Regions from separate parts of the Homo sapiens genome. Here region 2 is reported to be linked to region 1. The links are microRNA targets in miRTarBase. Many come from high-throughput screens and were not tested one by one. Region 1 holds a microRNA gene; the other region holds the end of a gene's coding sequence.

What was found. Region 1 holds the annotated microRNA hsa-miR-1909-3p (CGCAGGGGCCGGGUGCUCACCG, at 3,135-3,156, opposite strand). A microRNA usually pairs through its seed, bases 2 to 8, with sites in the 3' UTR of a target mRNA and lowers its output. Matches are read on the target gene's strand: a 7mer-m8 pairs with bases 2 to 8, a 7mer-A1 pairs with bases 2 to 7 and ends in A, and an 8mer does both.
Region 2: the mRNA of PHF21A is a reported target of hsa-miR-1909-3p. Seed matches in the 3' UTR shown: 8mer at 1,355-1,362, 7mer-m8 at 3,959-3,965, 7mer-m8 at 4,014-4,020 and 7mer-A1 at 4,301-4,307.

The regions. Positions count from the first base shown.
Region 1 is chr19:1,813,035-1,818,208 of GRCh38, forward strand. It overlaps MIR1909 (microRNA 1909), which reads right to left and starts at 3,204; the gene lies at 3,125-3,204. It overlaps REXO1 (RNA exonuclease 1 homolog), which reads right to left. Exons shown (of 16, transcript NM_020695.4): 11 at 4,673-4,746; 12 at 4,185-4,295; 13 at 3,664-3,779; 14 at 3,397-3,535; 15 at 3,191-3,311; 16 at 2,214-3,120. The coding sequence ends at 3,032. RefSeq lists an enhancer at 1-35.
Region 2 is chr11:45,929,668-45,934,667 of GRCh38, reverse strand. It overlaps PHF21A (PHD finger protein 21A), which reads left to right. Exons shown (of 19, transcript NM_001352027.3): 19 at 443-5,000. The coding sequence ends at 700. Among named protein-coding and RNA genes, the nearest start is that of LARGE2, 9.5 kb to the right of the region's middle. RefSeq lists enhancers at 4,081-4,170, 4,521-4,710.

The sequences.
Region 1 (5,174 bases):
TGCAGGAGGAAGGACCACAGGTAACGGCGGTTATGTAAGTCATGTCTGATCCGTGTCCTGGGTTCGTTCATTCATCCCATACACGTTCAACGAGCGCCTCCTAGGCGCAGATGCAGGGCTGAGCACCAGGCTGGGGAGAGGCGGTTATAGCCATTGAGACCACCCTAAGGCCAAGAGGAAGCCCGCAGGGTTCTTTCCAGCAGGTGGCAGGGGCTCAGGGATCCTTACTGAAGAAGTGGCAGGGGTGAGTTCAGCGACGAGGCTAGGGCGGGTCCAGGCCAGCGATAGGGCCTGGAGCCAGGGTCAGAAAGTGTGTGCGGAGGGGCTGCTGAAGATGAAATGCCCCCAAGAGTGAGGCTACCTGGGGTGAGGGCCCAAAGGGAGAGGCAAACATGGGTGGAGGGGGATAGGGAAGCCACCTCCCCCATCAAAGCGGCAACCACCTGAGGGCTCTCGGTGATCACAAACCCTCTTTCTTTGGAAGCCCAAATTGGAAGCCTGCTTGGCCCTGGAGGCTGCCAGGGAACCTCTCTTTTTTTGGAGACAGAGTCTCACTGTGTCACCCGGGCTGGAGTGCAGTGGTGCGATCAGAGCTCACTGCAGCCTCCACCTCCTGGGCTCAAGCGATCCTCCTGCCTCAGCCTCCAGAGTAGCTGGGACCACAAGCAGGCAGGCAGGCCACTGTGTTTGACTTCTCTCCTTTCATTCCTTCAACACTTCCCCTGTGCTTGCTTGCTTGCTCAGTGGTTACGAAAAAAAGCCGGGGCTGGGAGTTTGAACACACTGTTCTAATAAACTTTAGAAGAGACCTGGTTGGGTGCAGCTGTGAGGACCAGATTCCCCCACCCCAGCCTTCGCAGGGGGCACTATCTGGGGGCAGGAGCTTGCCCAGGGCACTTGTGCAAAGGCCCTGAAGCCTCCAGTGGCAACAGGTGGCTTCACAAGCTGAAGGGAGTCCCTGGGGGCTGAAGCCAGGGCTGGCCAGCCTTGGGACCCCCCGTGGGCTATGTCCTGAGGCACCAGGTGCGTTCTGGGAAGGGGGAGGCAGACATCACATGGGAATGCACAGAAACAGAGCGCATACACGCCTGCGCCATTTATTTAGAACACAGAGCCGGGCACAGTGGCTCATGCCTGTAATCCCAACGCTTTGGGAGGCCGAGGCAGGTGGATCACTTGAGGTCAGGAGTTCGAGACCAGCTTGGCCAACGTGGTGAAACCCCATCTCTACTAAAAATACGAAATTAGCCAGGTGTGATGGCACAGCCATAATCCCAGCTACTCGGCAGACAGAGGTTGCAGCCAGCTGAGACTGGGTGACAAAGCGAGACTGTGTCTCAAAAATAAAGAAGAAAAAGAAAACAACTCCTTTACAGAAGAGGTGGGAGAGTCACTAGTCACAAGAACAGCCCTCGAGGGTGGAAGGGCCTGGCCTAACCACGGTCCCCCAGGAGGGCCCTGGAGAGATGCAGAGCCCAGAACCGGGAAGGGAGCCTTGGGATGGAGTCCTCTGGGGAGGGCCCCCACGTCCTCATCCCGGGACCTGTGCCCTTGGCCTTGCCCTTCAGCAGAAGCCCAAGACCAGGGTGGCAGGAAACCCACTCCAGGCAACCTGCCCCCAGCTGCTGGGTCCTGTCCCGCAAGGCTCATCACTTTTTCTACTTGAGGTCAATAAAAAGTGGGGCCTAAACACCCCTGGGCCTCCCATTTCCAAATGGGGTCCCGATGCAACCACAGTTGCCCGAGACGTGCGTGCACTACACAATGTGTGGCGTTTCCTGGCAAGGGCCGGAGCAGCTTTCCGTGTCTGCACTCCATCCTTTGACGGGCAACACACAGCAGCTCCCAGTCTCTTTAACCCCCTCTCACCATCTGTGTGCAGTCCCTATCTCTGGGCAGGGCAGAGAGGGAAGCCAGCTCTGTGCACAGGGCCCAGCTCCACACAGGGCTGGGGACACCACCCACTGTCCGAGAGGCACTAGAAGCTGCAGGATGGTGGCCCATGATCTGGGGCTGGAACTGGGACCCCACAGCAGGTGTGGCCCAGCCCTGGGGGAGCCAGCCCTGGGCCAGCTTTTGTGAGGGAAAGTTTCACTGCTCTGTTTTCTCTGCGTTGATGGGAAGAGAATCAGTCCCGGCTGCAGGGACAGTGGCCTCCCCGGGGCACATGCAGAGGCCTCACCAGGCACCAAGACCAAGACCACCACAAAATCTAAAATCCATACAAACATTTATTCTGTCCCTGCCTGGAGGTGAGGGGGAAGGGGGTCCGGAGAGCCCCGCAGAGGAGGACGGGGCTCTAGCGGGAAGACAGTGTCCGGAGGCCGGTGGGCTCCCTCTAGACGGCAGACCCTGGGGCTAACGAGGGGCCAGCTGGGTTCTCAGAGGTCACGGAGTGCAGGGGTGGGGCGGCGAGTGGTGGAAGCCGGCGCCCCCGAAGACCGGCCAGCCCCTGGAGCACAGAGGCGGGTCCAGCCCACACTGCGCTGAGTGTGGCCCTGGCCCCCACTGGGGTCTGTCCCACCCCCACCCCGCAGGAGGGAAGGCAGCAGGCCCGCTCTTCCCGGTGGGAAAGATGCTGTGCAAGTCATCAGGTTTAAATTAAAAATAATAAAAATAACAATACAAAATAAAAAAAGACTGTCTCAAACAAACCTGGGACAAGCCCGCCCCGCGACCCACGTGAGGAGCAGAGGTGCCGGCCACCACCCGGGAGGGAGGGCCTGGCAGGAGGGGCAGGAGGGGCTGCGGGCCGGGTGGGGGCGGGCTCTGTCCTGGTCTCCATCAGCAGCAGTTTCTAGAGACGCCAGAGGGCTGGGGGGCAGAGGGTGGGGACCGGCGGAGGGGTGCGGCAGGACGTGAGCGGGGGTGGGCTGGGCTGGGCGTTCTCTGGCCGCCAGCTCATCCCGCTGCTCTGGGCTGCCTCGGCCAGGTGGACGGGTTACCGGAGATTTATTGCACTGTTTTGGAAGAGGCATGGGGCTAAGGACCAGCGGGACGGCAGGAGAGGCGGGTGGGAGGCGGGCAGGCGTCATCGCTTGGTCTTGGCGTCTTCTCGAACCTTCCAGATCACCAGGTGCATGCAGGCGCCGGCGTCCTCGCTGGAGCTGTGCCCATCCACTGCGGGGCAGATGCGGTGAGCACCCGGCCCCTGCGCAGGGACGGCCCCAGGGCAGGCACCGGCACTCACCATTGTCCTGGATGATCTGTCTGAGGTAGTCGGCCATGAGGTTCCGCAGGGACCGCTTGTAGGGGAGGCCCAGGCGGTGGGGGAAGAGCACAGACGTGTCCACCACGGTGCTGTGGATGACCTGTGGGCAGCGGCAGAGATCAGCGCACGTGGGGCCTGCGCAGGTCCTGCTGGAGAACCGCGCGGGACCCGGGCCGGCAGGGCACCTTCAGGGCCAGGAGGTCGCTCTCCAGGCTGTGTCCGATGAGGATGGTGTCAGCGCTGAACATGCTCAGCAGAACGGCCTGGACGTCACGCAGCGTGACACTTGTGTCGGCAAGGTCAGCCTCCGTCACCCCCGAAAACCTGGGGGAACGGGCAGGAGGGGCACCAGGGCTCAGCCTGGAAGCACTGGCTGGTGGGGCGGGGGAGGGTGGGTCCCTGGGGAGAGGCGGCTGGGAGGGCTCCCAGCTCGTGGAGGGCACTGGCCACACCTGGTGTTGTAGTCCACGATCTCGTTGTCAGGCTTCACGAAGGTGTCATAAACCACGTGCACGTCCGTGTCGACCACCGTGACGCGCGTCAGCTCCAGGCCATATGTGGTGTAGGACTGCGGGCAAGGGATGCACCTCAGATGTGTCCCAGGCACCGGCCTCCCTCCCTCCCCTTCCCTGCCCCTTTGAGTCTCCAGAGCCCCTCCAGGCAGAGGCAGTGACCAGAGACTCTGTGGGACTTCTAGGAGAGGCCGAGTGGGGTGTGACCTCAGTAACCCCCTTTCGCAAAGCCCTCCTGCCTCCCATTCAGAGGCAGAGCCGGGGCCCAGTGCCCGGTGTGCTTGGCTCTGCTGGGAAGTATGGGGTGTTGGTCCAGGGCAGGAGCCACAGGCACCGGTGCTGCGAGAGAAACCCTGAGCGCTGGCCGGTGAGCCAGGCCCAGATGGGGCCAGATGGGGCGGCCGCACCAGGCCAGGTCCTCCCCAATCCTGAACCCGACGCTGGGCAGAGAACAGCCTCACCATCTCGCAGTCCAGGGCGTAGATCCCCGGGTGGGTGTCTCCTGAGAGCTCTTTCTCAAAGGTCTTCACGAAGCCCTCAAGGCGCTCCTTCCGGCCATCCTGCACGTGTTGCTGGGGGTGGAGAAGGCAGGTGAGGGCAGCTTCGGGGTGCAGTGGGGGCGGGGGTGGCAGCAGCAGCACATCTCTGAGCCCTTCGGGACCATCCTATCCATCCATCACGCCCATTCACTGGTTGGGACCCTGGTGAGCAGGTGGGGAAGGGGGCTTGCCAAGAAGACACAGGGAGGACGGCTTCCCAGGATGGGAAGTGGCCAGGGACAGGGCCTGGGGCCTACGGGTGCTACGTTCTCTGGGTAACACAAGAAAGGCTGCCCGGGGGCCCAGACCCTGAGCCCAGGACTGTGCTGTGTCCCGAGACCCCACACCAACGATGGGGAGGCAGAAGTCTGTTGAGAACAGGCAGAGGGGACTGGGACGCCAGGGCTCACCTTTGCGACTTGGCAGCCGACAGAGCCGGCGGCAGCCGAGCAGCACATGTACTGGGTCTCCCAGCCTCCGGCCACTGCAGGGGACACAGACACACAGTCAGGGCCCGGCCAGGCCCACTCCACAGCCCCCGGGGCACTGACCACCTGCATCTACCGAGCCCTACTAGGGAGTGAGGACTGAGGACAGGAGGCCTCAGCCTCTTGGTGGAGCTGGAAGCAGACCAGGCCCCGGCAGTCGTGTGGCAGCCAGGACGCCCAGGCCTGGATCCAGGGAGACCAGTGCCCTCTGCAGAGGCCTCTTGGCAGCGCTGCCCCGGGCAGCACCCTCCAGGTATCCCTGAGGCGATGGCTTTAGGGGCCGCCACAGGGCTGTGCAAGGCTGGCCATGTGCCCTGAGCGTGGCTGCGTGGTTGCCTGGGGGATTGAATAGAACCACCAGGCCAAGGGTGGGACAAGCCCCTCCGCTCCTGGGGCCAGCAACCTCCACATTTCCATGGACCAA
Region 2 (5,000 bases), not on the chromosome of region 1:
TTTTCCACCCTGGAGAGCTCAGTCCAGTCCTGAAGGCTCCCCAGTTAGCATGACAGAAGCATATCAAAACCTGCCTAAACAGGCTGCAGGACAGCTGTGGGAACTTTTTTTTTTTTTTTAAACAACCTTTGTTTGGAAGTCTGATGGCGGCTCTGCCGGTTTGTTTTTAAGCGTTAGTACTCCTGTGTGTTGGTGCCCGCATGCTCTTTCTCCCTCTGTTGCCTCTGGGACCTGGGACCCCCCAGCCTACCCACTCCACCCGCCCTGTTCCTTAGGTGGTAGCCGCCCACTCCACTGAGGAACACAGCAAGGCCCAGGGGCTGCACAGCAGCCAGCAGAGCTTCTTCTCCCTGGGCAGAGAGAAGGCGCTCTGCTCTTAGGGGCTGCCAGGCCTGTTAGAAACCAGGCGGCTCAGTGCCACTGCCCTTGTCATTTGCTGCAGAAATGCATGGAAATGAAGAACACCATCCTGGCCCGGCAGAAGGAGATGCACAGCTCCCTGGAGAAGGTAAAACAGCTGATTCGCCTCATCCACGGCATCGACCTCTCCAAACCTGTAGACTCTGAGGCCACTGTGGGGGCCATCTCCAATGGCCCGGACTGCACCCCCCCTGCCAATGCCGCCACCTCCACGCCGGCCCCTTCCCCCTCCTCCCAGAGCTGCACAGCGAACTGTAACCAGGGGGAAGAGACTAAATAACAGAGCCCCTCTAGGAGAAGCCACGGGATCCCGGCGGCAAGGAGAACAGAACACTGAAGACTCTAGAAAAGCAAAGCCGGATTTCTGGAAAGTGCAGAATTCTTTTGGTTCTTTGGTTCCAGAGAGAGAGAAGATGCTTGTGCCAGGTGGCACCAGAGTTTGCCAATTGATCCTTCTTATTCTGTGTGTACATGCAAAGATTGGACCATGTTACATGAAATAGTGCCAGCTGGAGGTTCTTTGCCAGCACCATGCCAAGTGAAATAATATATTTACTCTCTCTATTATACACCAGTGTGTGCCTGCAGCAGCCTCCACAGCCACGATGGGTTTGTTTCTGTTTTCTTGGGTGGGGAGCAGGGACGGGCGGAGGGAGGAGAGCAGGTTTCAGATCCTTACTTGCCGAGCCGTTTGTTTAGGTAGAGAAGACAAGTCCAAAGAGTGTGTGGGCTTTCCTGTTTCTAAACTTTCGCTACTATAAAACCAAAAAAAGGAATTGAGATTTCACCAACCCCAGTGCCCAGAAGAGGGAAGGGGAGTGGCTGGAGGGAGCAGGGGGTGGGACAGTGTATCAAATAAGCAGTATTTAATCACCTCTGGCGGGGGCCTCGTGCAAGGGGAGACTGACACCAAGAACAGCCAGTAGGTTCTTCTCCCCTGCACTCTGCTCCCTGCGCGGTAACCCCACCACTCCTGAAGCCTGCCCAGTCTCCTTCCTTCCCTGCTTGGTGAGTCGCGCATCTCCGTGGTTATCCCGCTGTCTCCTCTCCAAGAACAAGCAGAGCCCGGGCCACTGGCCCTTGCCCAAGGCAGGGAAGAAGGATGTGTGTGTCCAGGAAGGAAAAAAAGGTGGATCAGTGATTTTACTTGAAAACAAGCTCCATCCCTTTTCTATATTTATAAGAAGAGAAGATCTTGAGTGAAGCAGCACGCGACCCAGGTGTGTGTGAATTGAATGGAGACGTTTCTTTTCTCTTTCTTTAATTTTTGTTTTTGTTCTTTTTTTCTTTAAGGAAAGTTTTATTTTACTGTTCATTTTACTTTCTTGGTAACAAAAACTAAAATAAGGAATAGAAAAGCTGTTTTTCAGGCTGACAGTCCAATTAAGGGTAGCCAAGACCTTGCATGGTAGAGTAGGAATCATAGTGTCAGTGAGGTCCCGTGAGTCTTTGTGAGTCCTTGTGTCATCGTTCGGGCACTGTTTTTTTATGCAAGGGCAAAAATCTTTGTATCTGGGGAAAAAAAACTTTTTTTTAAATTAAAAAGGAAAATAAAAGATATTGAGGTCTTCCTAGTGTTACTTAAATTAAGATCAAGGTAAGAAACATTGTAAAAAAAAATTACAAAAGTGCTATTTGTTTCCTAAAAACAGTGATTTCTATTAAAAAGGTGTCAGAACTGGAGAAAATGCCGTGTAGTTATAATTTTTTAGCACAGACCCTGCTGATCACGATGACATTTTGCCGTGTGTGTGTCTCTAGACTGGTGGGCCAGTCTCCTTGAAGGACAGAGGCGGAGCTCCCCACCCTTCTCTCTCCTCAGAAAAGACCGTGCTCTCTTCTTGGTGCAGGGATCTTGTCTCCTGTTGTGAAGCCCAAATGGAAGCGTGGATGGTATCAGGGCCCTACCCGTGGTCTTCTCAGATTCTGCTAGAGCAAAAGGCTGGTGCCTAAATAAGATCCCTTCCTTTGGTGCTGCTTTTGGTCTTTCAGCCACCAGCATTATGAGTGCCTGGGGGACACCTCCGAGGGAACTGGCCAGCGGAGCTCTGTGGTGCGCACGCACCCTGGCCGTGACAGGAGGGTGCGGGAGTACAGGCTGGCTGCATCAGCCCTTGGTGCTTAGAACAGAGGAGGAGTGACATGTTTTGAGGGTACGTCTCTGAGACAGAGCCCCAGCGTGGCCTTCGCTCTGTCTTGCCTTTGGGGAGAGGTCTGAAGCTCCCACTCCTTTCTCTGCCTGTTGGCTCCAGGCACCAGAAATTTACTCCACTCCACCCACCCACAAGCCTCCTGGGTGACCCTGGGCTAGAATTGCTGCGCTTGCCTCGGCTTGGCCGGTTGTGGCCTCTCCTTGAGAAAACCAGGGTTGTGAAAGACTCAGACCATTCTCTCATCTTGCCTTGTCAGAAGTAAATTGTGTCAGATTTGTGCTCTCGCTGGAGACCTTTGCCCCTTGCGTGCCCCTGGCCGATGGGAGGGCGGTGGAGGCTCTGTACCCTGGCCCTGCTGGAGCATCTCCCCCAAGCCCACTCCAGGCCCTGGGAATGGCCAGAGTCTAGGAGAGGTAGAAACGATCCTATCAGCTTCTCTCCCACCCAATTAGGCCCAGAGAGACAAAGACAGATCTGAAAGCAAATGCAACAGAGAAGAGACACTTCTTAGAGTAAAATGTGTCTCATCTCTATCAGCCATCGCCTTTCATCTTCCCAGGGGCCTCAGAAGAAGGAATTAAGTTAGGCTGAACAGGCCTCAGAGTTAGGCCCTGGCTGCTTGATTGGCTGAGGGGGAAAGAGTTCCCTTTTCTCATTCAGAAACCAAGGTGCTGTGTCTAGTCAGGGAGCCTTGGAGATGCCTGGACTAGTTGGAGGAATCGTTGGCAGAGGATCAGAGACCAGCAGCAGGCTGTCTGCCCTGTCTAGAGCTCTTCCCCTCAACTTGTCTGGGCCCATCTGGGGGTTGCCACACAACACCTAACTTACCTTTTCCTGAAAGAAGTTGGGAAACCATCATCACTAGAGGCCTTTGCTCAGAGAGGAGCTGCCTTAGGAGTCTTGGGTCGGAGGACGGGGCTAGGAATTGACCAGGGCTTTGCCTGCCGCCCTCAGCAGTGTCGGGTACATTCTGACCTCGCCTGCAGCTGGGCTGTGGATTCTTCCTGACATTCAGATGTGAGCTGTTTTGGGAGTCAGCTAGTATGGAGTACGAGATGCAACCCAGCCCCCAAACCTACATTCTGCACTCAAATTCCAAAACACTGCTTTACTGTAAAGAAGAGGCCCCTGGCACCCAATCTCCCTGTCCTTCACTGTCCCCTCAGACCTGGGCGGGGAGGGGGGGGGGCCTGTGACCACCTGAGACATACGCTCGTGACACTGCCCCACCCCAGCCACCTCCACTTGCTTCCTCCTCCTTCCCTCCGCTGCTCTTTCCCCACGGCCCAGAATTTAGCTGCTCTGACAGCCACTTTTGAGACCAGCTGGCTTTGTAGTCACTTCAGAGAGCTGGAGCGGCTGCCCACTGGGCCCTGACTGGGAGTCCCCTGCCAGCTCCTGATCAGGCGCTGCGCCCTGGTGGCAGTGATGACTGGGAGTCCCCTGCCAGCTCCTGTCCAGGCGCTGCATCCTGGTAACAGTGAGGCCATGTTGCTGTCATCTCCACCTCTGCATTCTTGCTGCCTGTGGGTCCTTTTTCTTTCATGGAGCCTGCTGGGTCTTGTCTCACCTGTGCTGAGCTCCTCTGGGGTTTTGATTTCTTCCTTCCTTATCAGGCCCTTTGGGGTAAGCCTGCTGGTTGTACCTGACATAGGGAGGCAGTTAGGGGCAGTCCCTGGTGGGGCCGCCCTGGCAGCCTCCAGCTGGCACCATCGTGTGCCTGGTTTCCCTGCAACACCTGCCTCTCTGTCCCTGCTGCTGCTTGGCTCAGGCCCAACAGGCAGCGTGCATGGAGGTGGTTACACACAGCTGTTTCCGTGAGGGTGACCGTGTCTGCAGCACGCTTCCGTCTCCGCATGCACGGCTGCCTCTCCAGCCACCTCTGATACTTCTCTCTTGGGGCCATCAGAGCCTCCCTTGGGCTGTCACCTCCCAGCTCACACACACTCTTCAGTGGTTTCCTCTCTTCATTCTCTTATAGGGCGTGGTCCTTCTTATTTATCTAAAGGGCTGAATTTAGGAGACTTTTTACCCAGGGGCAAAAGGCTCTTAGGGTAATGAGATGGATGGTGGCCCAGGTGCATTTTCCAGGGCCTGGGTTCTCCAGATCCCGTGGCTTCTGTTGAGTGGAGGCAACTTTGCTCTGTGTGAACCTCGCCCCTGTCCCTCTGCCGGGCACCCCTGGCAGGAAGCAGGACTCCCATCCTCACCCTGACTTAGACTGTCCTCTGAGTCAGCTCCTCTCCAAGACAGGAGTGGGCAGCCCTGGGCAGTCTTCTGGCCCCTTGCTAAAGTGAGGGGCAGGAAGCTGGGGCTGCCCTCCAGAAAGCCGGGGTAGGAACTCTGAAAAATACCTCCTCTAAACGGAAGCAGGGCTCTCCAGTTCCACTTGGCGCCCCCTCCCACAAGGCCCTTCCTCCCTGAGGA